3 linked regions of the Homo sapiens genome follow. The protein of the gene in region 2 purifies or fractionates together with the protein of the main gene of each other region. This does not show direct contact. Each region holds a gene or a part of one and is shown on either strand. Other genes may lie near its edges.

Region 1 (3,651 bases), on a different chromosome or scaffold from region 2:
AAATTTCACCTGTCTGCTGGATGCAATGGCTCATGCCTGTAATCTCAGCATTCTGAGGCCAAGGCAGGCAGATCACTTGAGCTCAGGAGTTCAAGACTAGCCCAGGCAACACGGCGAAACTCTGTCTCTACTAAAAATATAAAAATGAGCTGGGTGTGGTGACATATGCCTCTAGTCCCAGCTACTCAGGAGGCTGAGGCTGGAGGATTTCTTGAGCCAGGGAGGTTAAGGCTGCAGTGAGCTGAGATTGCACTACTGCATTCCAGCCTGGGCAAAAGAGCAAGACACTGTCTCAAAAAAAATAAATACATAAAAATAAAAATTTCTGTTTTCATTAAGTAATCCCAAAATGTGTATTATTGATGGGTATATATTTAGGGTCATGTATATTCAATGTTGTGTACATTAAAAAACCCAACTTCCATTGGCAATGCTAACCAAGACCTCTTATTAAAAAAACAAACAAACAAAAACCACAAAGCCTATTTTTTTTTTCTTGCAACGGGGTCTCACTTTGTCATCCAGGCTGGAGTGTGGTGTGAGGATCTCCGCTCACTGCAGCCTTGCTCTGCTTTCCAGGGCTCAAGCAATCCTCCCACTTCAGCCTCTTGAGTAGTTGGGACCACAAGTGCAAGCCACCATGCCTGGCCATTTTTTTTTTTGTATAGAGACGGGGGTTTCACTATGTTGCCTACACTGGTCTCAAATTCCTGGGCTCAAGCAATGTGCCCACCTCAGTCACCCAAAGTGCTGCTATCACAGGCGTGAGCCACTATGCACAGCCAACTTTTTTTTTTTTAAATAGTAGATATAAGTGTAAAGTATTGAGACCAGAGGTTTTCTTGTTGTTTTGGATTTTCTCATTCATAAATCCTCTGGGCCTCACATATCCAATGGGTGTTGTCAGTGAGAAGTGGTCACTATGGGGACCATGTACATATTCCAGCCATGCTGCCATGATTCCGGTGTTTTTACTTCTGTTTTGGAATTATCTTCAGGGTCCCTAGCATGCCTATCATTCCCTCACTCAATGCATCGCCTGAAAGGTACTGCTAGGCATGAAGCAAATACTCAGTAACAACCTGGACAGCAGCAAACCTCTGCCCTCCAAGGACAAGCTCCATCCAGAGCCAAACACCCTCGGAGACACATTATTTGCAAGATGAGGGTGGCCAGGTGAGGGACGCCTTGGGGCTAGGTGAGACCAGTAGCTACAGACATGTCTGGGGTCTGCTGGGGTCAAACAGGCTATACTTGATGCCCCATGTCCTGGGGGCCACTTGTCCACCTAAAACCTCTCCCACAAAGTCTCAAGAACCGGTGGCAGCAAGAATGTTATGATCCTCCCTGTGGCCTCCCCTCTGAATCATTAGGCTTCTCTACAGGCAAGAAGAGAAATGCAGGCTGCCCCCACCTCTCACAAATGCTGTGTGTTCCTCCTACCGCATCAGCTGGTCACCACCCCAGGCATGACTAGGAGGGTCACTTCTGTTCAGGCAATAGCCTCCCAGCCTAAGGGCTAGCCCAGAGAAGGACACGGGGAGGAAAGCTGTCCTTCCTACTGAGTGTCAGGACCCTCCCATCTTGGGTGCTGGGGGCACTGACTCTGAACAGGCCCTCTTCCCAGGCCTACTTGGAAGCTGGAGTCCGCTTCCCCAGCTAACCCCATACTAGCTGTTAGGAGCAATGCTCCCAAACCAGGCATCCACTAGGTCCTGCAGCAAGCTGTGCAAATTAAGTTTGTGTGTGATTTCATGCACACAGGAGAGGCAAGAAACAGCCTCCATATGATACAAGGGATAATGAAGTACTAAGGGTGGTATATATAGAAAGAGAAGTCTTAGTTGCCTGAAAACAAGGGAGGGGAAGGATTTGAAACTGTTCAAAGCAACAGCAAGAGTTTCCTTTTCCAAGGAAGCTCCACAGAAGATTAATGATTATTTGATGGTAAGTCCTGTTACACTTGTGGGGAAAAAAAATAAGTGTGCAGCTGTTCTGCCGTCACACCAAATCAGCTCACGGAGGCCAGGCCTCTGGGGTGACATCGGTGGTCTCTCATGCCAATCACCAGAGCCCCTGCCCCACTCTTACTTTCAGCCTGTCCAGTTCCAGCTGGTCCCTGGCAACAGGCACAACCGAAGGGGAGCTGGGCGCCACGGTGGGAGGAGGCCCGTTGCCCTCGCCCTCGCTGAGCTTGATGATGACCTCGTCCTTGGCTTGGATGGTCTCCATGAGCATTCCCAGCTGCTCGTTGAGCTCGCCCACTTTGCTCTTCAGCGTCCTTACTTCCTGCTGAAGACTCTCCTTCTCCAAGCTGAACCTCTCCAGCTGGCTGGTAAGGCCCAGAATCTGATCATCCTTTTGGTGCAGAAGCTCGAGCGTGTCCTTTGGGACCCCCTCACAGAGCCGGCTGCTTGTGAAATACTTGTCATACTGGGATGACCGGACTGTCTGCTGGAGCAGTCGAACAAGCTCCTGGGAGCCAAAAGGAGAATGGAGTGAAGGGTGAAAAGAGCAAGGAGAGGAGGAAAAGCAGAAATCATGACATTACATGGAGTAATCGACAGAGTTTGAGGAAATGTAGAAACTTTACTGGAAACATTTTAATACTGAACTTCCTCTTGAAGGATCTCAAAAATAGAGGAAAAAAATATTTACTCCATAAAGACTGTCTGTAGAGAACAGTAATAGGAAACAGGAAATAATGGACATGTCCACTATAATTAGCAATGGTATCCAGTAAATGTCATGGGTATTAAAAAACCTGTGCTCTAAGAGTCACTGAACTGCTGAACAATTAAATGTAATTAGATCTGATTAGTTCAAGAAACCATTGTTGAATAGGATGCAGAAACTCTTTTTAATGACTGTTAAAGAACTCTGGGCTGAAACTGTGTTTAGGGAGATTCAACCTCAGGGGCAGGACTGGGCTGTGGTGCAGACAGCAACCTCCTCTGTCCTCCTTTGAGAGATCTTCACTCTCCTTGCAAATGCAAACACCTCTGAACCAATGATCAAGCACAGCAGCTGTGCCTAGATGACCGCCATGGCAATATGAAACCTCCAGGGGAAAAGCAACTCCTGGGAAACAAAGCTGTCCCCAGAAAGACTCAGGGAAACATAAATTGGGCTTTACTCCTCCCGTCCTTGGCCTGCTGAGGTGGGGTAAGACAGAAGCCAGAAGAAGAAGTTACCTTCTGACTGGACAGGTCTTTCTTTAACTGTTCCAGCTCTTCCTGCTGGCTCTGGACCTGCAGTTGCATTTCGGAGGCCGGCTTCCTGATGCTGACGCTGCCACTGCCTGATGTGCCTTCACTTGAAGGGTCACCACTGCTGTGACGATTTTTGTACGACCCAATTATGTCTTTCAAAGGGCGCTTTCCTTTGTAGGGGTTACGTCCAAAATCAAAGGGGAATCCTGAGCCAGTTACTCCTACATAAAAATAAAACTTGTATTTTATTATTATTATTATTATTTTTGAGACGGAGTGTCGGTCTGTCGCCCAGGCTGGAGTGCAGTGGCGCAATGTCGGCTCACTGTAAGCTCCGCCTCCCAGGTTCATGCCATTCTCCTGCCTCAGCCTCCCGAGTAGCTGGGACTACAAGCACCCGCCACCATGCCTGGCTAATTTTTTGTATTTTCAGTAGAGA
Region 2 (2,702 bases):
ACAGCATTTTCAGGTTCACTAAAACTTAAGCATGGTTTATTATCAGCTCTGCAAAAAAAAAAAAAAAAGGAACATATCAATGATGGGACTGGATGCATGCTATTATTTCATTTTCACTATTACCTTTAAAAATCTTCTACCTTATAGAAAATTTACATACTTAGTGTAAAAGTATTTAATGTAAGAGTATTTAAACATTCAATCAGAAATTTGATATATTTAAGTTGTCATTGCCAAGTAAGACCTTTGGAGATAGGTTTTTAAACTCAGCTCTCCAAACTACCATTTACCAATAAAAATCTACTTGGTAATTACCTTTATCAACATAAAATTTTTCTCAGAATTATAGTTGACCATTACCACTAAACTATTAACAATTACCTTGGATTTGTATGCAATAAAAATTCTATGTGCTTTTAAATTCATTACCTTTTCATCATTCCTATTAGGTAAGAAGGGTGGTTTGCTATTATATTATAGTAGCCTACTTTTTCAATGGAAAAAGGGTGATATTGAGGGAGATTAAGGTAATCTGTCAATATTTAAAAAATTAGTTAATTACCTGAGTCAGAGGCCAGTTAATGCAGACACAGCTCTAAAGTAAGTAATGAGAAAACTTACATCCTGATGTCAAAGACACTTTTTATTTTTAAAGTGTTTTTATTTTTAAATATTTTAGGAAAAGCCTAAAATATTTCCAATTCATTCTCTGTTTGCTTAGCAGATTCGTGATACAGTAACACTGAGTTCATAAAAAAATACTCTATAGAGTATTAGAATCACTTTCCTCCAATTATTCAAGAATTAAGCTATCATAAATGAAATATTATATACCTAGATTCTTCATCCAGGACATCTTGATCAACCTCAAGTGCAGAGGACTCCACCTTTAGGATCTGTTCACCTTCTGTTTCTGACACATCCAGTGATTCTTCAGGTTCTAAAGACAATGTTCTAAAAGTATGTTATAGCAACAAGTTATTTTCTATGAACAAAACAGGCATATGTTTAATGTTGTGAATACAGGTAGCTATAGCAGTCTTTAGCTGTTAAGCCTTAATGTAGTTACATAGCTAATAAATAGCTCACTTTGGAAGTCAACAGAGAAAATCAGTAGCTATGATTAATTTAAAATGACTTTAGTATCAATTCAAGATATGCTGATGAGATGGCAAACCAGAGCTTTCATATGTGAAAAGCTGGCATAAATGCCTAGAAACTAAGATGTCACTTAAATAAAATAATGGTATTCCATTTAATAATGATTATTTATTTAATAATGATTTAACAATGATTAAAATGAATAATGTTTACCTTGTTGAACAGTTAGTGGCTTATTTTCCTGATGTTTCCCATCCTTCAATGTTCAAAATTTATTTAGCAAAATTATGCTAAATAAAGCATAATTTTCCCAATGAAGTATGCCAAAAGCCTACAACTTTCAGAATCAGAAAATTCCTAAATCATATTAAAATATAAAGGGCAGTTAGCCCAGAGTATTAAGGGTTGAATTAGTCAGAGTAGAAATGCAAGTATCACAACACACCTGATTCTGTTCTCTAAAGTGTCTATATGAAGTTGCTTCTCACTGAGCAGTTTCTTTAGTGATTCCATCTCCTTTTGTTTTTCAAGTAGTTCTTTCTGTAAGCGGTAGTTTGTCTCTTCTAAAGTTTCACAGAATGCCTTAAAAAAAACAACAAACAAAACTAAACACATGCAGAAAAAGAATACAATTAATTACAAATGCAGTATCTTTCTCAAGAGCATTATTGAAGAGTCAAAGAACACAGATAATCAAAATAATAGTATGAAACTCCAAATGATTTGTTCTCTACCCTCATCTTTTTAGGTCACTGGTATCTTAACTTTAGTTCCCATCCACCAGGGGGACATAACTACAAGTTCTTTTTCTTAAGACTTACAGTAGTAAGCTAGTGTGCCTGAAGTGAGTATGTGATATCCCTCTAGTGTAGAACTGGGATAAAAAATAATTGGCAACTACTGCTTTAGTTTTTACTCTCTTTAATCTACTTTTGCCTAGTCATACATGATTACACTTAAAAAATATCAACTGTGGTTGATGCCATTTGTATTAGCTCAGTAGACATACTACTGTAACAGCATTTTGGTAATCTTGACACTTGGGTTGCAGTACCAGGATGGTACAAGAAATGAGGAGTCAGGTACATTTTGGGAAGTAAGTGACAAAAAGTGATAGATTCAGGAATAAAGCAAAGACCCTAAAGAGCCTATTAATAAAAGTCACTCAACAACACAGAAAAACATCAAGAAAGATTGTTTGTCTCAATCTGGTTTCTAGGTGGGCGAGGTAAAGTCTCACCTGAAGAATCTAATCTAAAAAGCCTCATATGGATTTTGGGAAAAACAATGTATCATAAGGAAGACAAATAAAAACAAATATATATATATAAATACAAGATACTGAAGTTGCAAATATCAAAATCAAATAGATCTCTAAAACACCAGGAAGACAAATCAGTTTACTATAAAATTGTAAGACAGTAGGGGACTGGGAGTAGATGTCATAAAACAGTCTATGTCAAAGGCAGTGGAAAACACTTTAAAGCACTGAGAAAAATAACTATCAAGGTAGAATTCTACACTCAGTTAAATCATACTTCAAGAATGAAACAAAATTAAAAGACATTTGAACATCAAAGATCTAAGCATTACCAATACAC
Region 3 (4,203 bases), on a different chromosome or scaffold from region 2:
ACTCCAGTGTAAATCAAATCGCCTTGTTTTAGAAAGAAACATTATATTGTGATCAACACTGGGCAAACCAGAAGCCACCGCCACAAACAAGACAGCGGAAACATGGAGGAAGAAACAGATACAACGGAAGTAAAAGCTTGTTATTAAATTCAATTATCACTAGGTACTGTTGCCTTTTAACAGGCTCTGCCTCTCATTAAAAAGGGGGATTAGCAAGTGTGAAGGAGCGTTAAGGACCCAGTTAGCACCCAACGGAGACTTTCCTATTGAAAATTTCCAGGTCTGCGAGCAGGGAGGAGTCTGGGCCGGTCTTGACCATCTGTCCAGGCCCAAGTCTGTTCTCCTCCCTATCCCGGGGGTTTGAGCCTTGCCTGTACCCAGGACAGGGCTGTGGGTGCTGGAGAATGGCTGCTCCAGGCCAAAATATCTTTATTTTACCAGCCAGACCATGTGTCACGCAGGGGCCACACAAACCCTCCCAGAGCACAGAGATTCTCTCCGAAGCAGAGATTCTCCCCAGCTCCTTCCTGGACGTTCTCCTCACCTTGGCAGCATCGGCCCTGTGGTTAGCAACCCGCTAGTTCTCCTTAAATCCTCACATTAACAAAAAATAACCTGTTCTTGAATGACATTTAAAATTCTTTAAATTCTTAAATTCATTTGTGAAACTTTCCAGCGAGACGGGCACCACCACAAACCACAGCCAGCTCCCGTGTCTTCGACTGGAAAATCTGTGGAAACGGGAGGAGGCAAGCGATCACGTTCTAGCGGACGGGGCCTTCGTGCCTGAAGCCCGCCGGGGAGAAGAACGAGGGGGCAGGTGTCCAAGGCCGGGCGGCACCAGATGGGCCTGTCCCCACCCATTGTCAGCCCGGGAACCGGGGAGAGAGTCGTCCTCGAATGGCGGCTCACAGCAGCCGGTTAACACTGGGTGCCTGTCCCATGTCTGCATCCCCAAAAGCAATGATGACCCAATGGGGGACCTGTGGGCCACCCTCTGACCCAGGACGGAGAAACCGTGGAGCAGAGCAGGAGGCACCGAGGCCCCCCGGCCCCAGGTGCTGTGTGATGGAGGGGGGGTGGGGGGGGGGCAGCAGCTCCTCTCTGGGCCTCAGTATCCCCCGTGGGAAAGGAAGGGGTGGCAGGAAGGAAACAATGGGCCCGACCCGGAGTGTTCGCTGACACCCCTCCTCTGGGAGGGAGATCTCCGTCGTCCTCCTAGGCAGCCCCCTCCCCACAGCCACACCCTGCCCAGGCCTGGCTGTCAGAGGCCCAGAGGCTCCTCCGGGGCCTGGCGAGCAGGGCAGATAAACAAGGCTGGGGGGTGGGGGTGTGGAGCAGGCAAGTCTGGGCCCTGGCTCCCCTGAGCCCCTGGCTGAGCTCCCGGGGCGGGGTGACGGGGAGAGGGGTCAGGCCTTTGTCTGGGTTTTCAAAAGCAGAGGACACTGGGTGTCTCGCTTTCCCAGGGAGGGAGGGAGGCAGCGGCCCCCACCCAGCCGCGGGCGTGGCGGGTCACGGGTGAATCCCCGGGGAAAGTTGGCGGCTTAGAAAACACGCCCAGTGGGAAGGGCAGGGGGCCACAGGCGGCCTCCAGATCCGGTCTTCGGTCCTCGGGCTGGGGTGGGGACCCGGGCCTCAGCAGGGCAGCTGGCTCCCCTGTCCTGAAGTGGGCAGGTGGGTGACCCCAGGAGGAGCCTCCTGACCCCTGCCCGTGCAGTGCCCACCTGTGGGAGTGAGGGGCAGAGGGGCACCCGAGCACCGGGAGGAGGGGACCGGTGTCCGAAATGACCACGCGCCCTCGCTCGGTGCCTCCACTGGCCACCCCCCCCCCACACACACAGGCGCAGCCATGCGGGGGTCCAGGGATCCCAGCCCAGGGCCAGCCCACTCCTGTAGCTACACCAGTGGAGCCCCAGCTCCGAGACACTTCCCCGAGAGGGTATCCCACCCAGGCGCCCCGCTGGAAAACGCCGGTTCCTCTCCCTTCTCACACACCCCAGAGACCCGGGAAGCCGAGGGCAGCCCCTCTCCCTCCAGCGGTAACTCGGGACCTGCGCAGTGGCGGGGGGCTCAGGACACCCCTGGAGGCCCTTGGGAAGGGCGGGGGTGGGGGGCACCGGCCCGCGCGCGCGTCCAGGGCGCCAGGAGCCGTGCGCTCAGACTGGGGCGGGGGAAGGGTGCGTGAGCGCGAGGCCGGACCGGTGCAATCTGGGGAGGGGTCGCTCCATCTCCCCGGGGCCACCCACAGGTGGCCGAGAGCCGAGGCTCGCCCTGGAGACGCGGGCGGGGCGCGGGCGGAGACGCGAGCCTCCCCCTCCCCGCGTCCTGGACTGGCCCGAGCCGCCGCTGCCCGGGTCCCCACGCGCCGGTGGGTGGGCAGCCGGGGTCCGGGAGCGGGGAGGCCTCCCGGCAGGCGCGGCCCAGCCCGAGTCTCTTCCCGGCTGCGCTGCGGCCCCAGCAGCCCCGCGCCGCCTCCTGCTCCTCGCGGGGGCAGCGACGCCCCCAATGGGGCGCGAGAGAGGGGGCCTCCCCCCTCCCCGGCTCCCGGAGCTCCGGGCCCCCAGCCCCGCGGCCCGAGCGCGCCTACTCACTCCATCTCCCCGCCGAGGTCCGGGTGGGTCCGCGGTGCCGGGCGGGGGCGGGCGCGGGTGGCGCGCGGGGGAGGGGAGGGGAGGGGGACGCGGCCTGGCGGGGGCCGGGGCGGGCTAAGGCCTGGCGGCCGGGGCTGCGCGGCGCGGGGGCGGCGGCACCGGCTCGGGCATCGCCCCGCGCAAAGCTGCTGTTTATTGTCCGGGCGGCGGCGGGCGCGGGGGGTGGGCTGGGCGCGCGCGTCTCCGGCGCGCTCCCCTCTCCCTCCCGCCCGCCCCGCTCCCCGCCCCGCTCCCCTCCCACCTCCCCGCGCTGCGAGCGGGCGCTGCGCCTCCTGCCGGCTGCGCCGCCGCCGCCCCCCGCCCCGCGCGCCCCGCCCCGGGGCACCCCTGAGAAGGGCCTAGGTCTGGGCGCGGTGCTGGGACCCGGCTGTCACCAAGTCCCGCCCCTCCCCAGCTCCTGGGCCAGAGCCGGGACCCTCGCGAAGTCAGACAAGCAAAGGCCTTTCTCGAGAGCCCAGACGCCGAGAGGGACACACATTTCAGGGCGAGCGAGGGGATAGGGGGGTCCTGGGGAGGCCGCTGCGAGGAGCTGACAGCTCCCTGCACCCCCGGCCCCGCTCGCAGGGTCCCCAGGCCTCCTTTGCCGGAGTATCTGGTGGAGGGCGCTGTGCCTGCAAAGGCCGGGGGTTGGGGTGGAGACAACCGCAGGTGCTGATCTGTCTGTGCCCTGGCTGGGAGCTGAGCCTGGTCCCCGGGGCTGGAATTTAATCGGCCCCAGGGCCCCCATGGCACACTCACTAAAGGCCCAGCGACCAGACGACCAGAGTGAGTGAGAGGGACGGTGGAGAATCAGGGAGAGCTCAGGCTTTGTCCTCAGAGCACTGGGGAGCCACAGCAGGAGACAGGCAGGACCTGTCTTCCCCAACATGTAGGCCTTGGGCCCAGCTTCCTGGTTTCCCGTGAGAACACTGCAGACCAGCCCCAGCACACCTACTCATGGGGGTCCAGGGTGGGCAGGAAGGAAAGATTCTTCCAAACTTCTTAGTTTTCTTATAAAACGGTTCTCCTCTGCCGATGTTTGCTGAATGGCTGTAGATTTAAAGGAAAGTAGCCCCGGATGAGCTGTGGAGAAAGATACGGCAGGATGTACCCCAGGCTGAAGAAGGCCGTCAACACCTTTTCTTTATTCCTCCCTTTTTACAATGAATGTGTATTCATTTTAGCATTTAAGACAATAAGATAAATTAGCAAAGGTTAACAAAGCTAAGATCCTAAAGAATATCAGGGGTCCCGGGTCTGTCTGATTCCCAGCTCACCCATCTCCAAGCTGTGTGACCCTGGGTCTGTTTCTCAACCTCTCGGAGCCTTATTCCCCCCCACCCCCCTGCCCCCACCCTTAAGGCTGTGGGAGGGTTAACTGAGTGAGCACACACAAAGGGCTTGGCACAGGGCCCAGCACACACTAGCTCAGGGTTTGGCAAACTTTTTCTGTAAAGGGCCAGAGAGTAAATATTTTCAGCATTGCAGGCCACAGTCTCTGCGGCAATGACTCTGCTCTGCCATCGCAGAGTGAAAGTAGCCAGAGACAATATGTAAAACCATGGGCATGGCT

The links.
Region 1: the proteins of SNX16 (region 2) and TBC1D2B purify together in Homo sapiens (affinity purification with mass spectrometry; one large-scale study listed by BioGRID and IntAct). This does not show direct contact.
Region 3: the proteins of SNX16 (region 2) and PALM purify together in Homo sapiens (affinity purification with mass spectrometry; one large-scale study listed by BioGRID and IntAct). This does not show direct contact.

Annotation. Positions count from the first base shown.
Region 1 is NC_000015.10:78,022,065-78,025,715, forward strand, and holds part of TBC1D2B (TBC1 domain family member 2B), read right to left. Parts: intron 3,434-3,651; coding exon 3,195-3,433; intron 2,476-3,194; coding exon 2,092-2,475; intron 1-2,091. UniProt on the Homo sapiens protein: GTPase-activating protein that plays a role in the early steps of endocytosis.
Region 2 is NC_000008.11:81,801,546-81,804,247, forward strand, and holds part of SNX16 (sorting nexin-16), read right to left. Parts: intron 1,684-2,702; coding exon 1,547-1,683; intron 955-1,546; coding exon 835-954; intron 49-834; coding exon 1-48. UniProt on the Homo sapiens protein: May be involved in several stages of intracellular trafficking. Plays a role in protein transport from early to late endosomes. Plays a role in protein transport to the lysosome. Promotes degradation of EGFR after EGF signaling.
Region 3 is NC_000019.10:707,540-711,742, reverse strand, and holds the start of PALM (paralemmin-1), read right to left. Parts: upstream 2,809-4,203; 5' UTR 2,597-2,808; coding exon 2,592-2,596; intron 782-2,591; exon of another isoform or gene 556-781; coding exon of another isoform or gene 545-555; intron 1-544. UniProt on the Homo sapiens protein: Involved in plasma membrane dynamics and cell process formation. Isoform 1 and isoform 2 are necessary for axonal and dendritic filopodia induction, for dendritic spine maturation and synapse formation in a palmitoylation-dependent manner.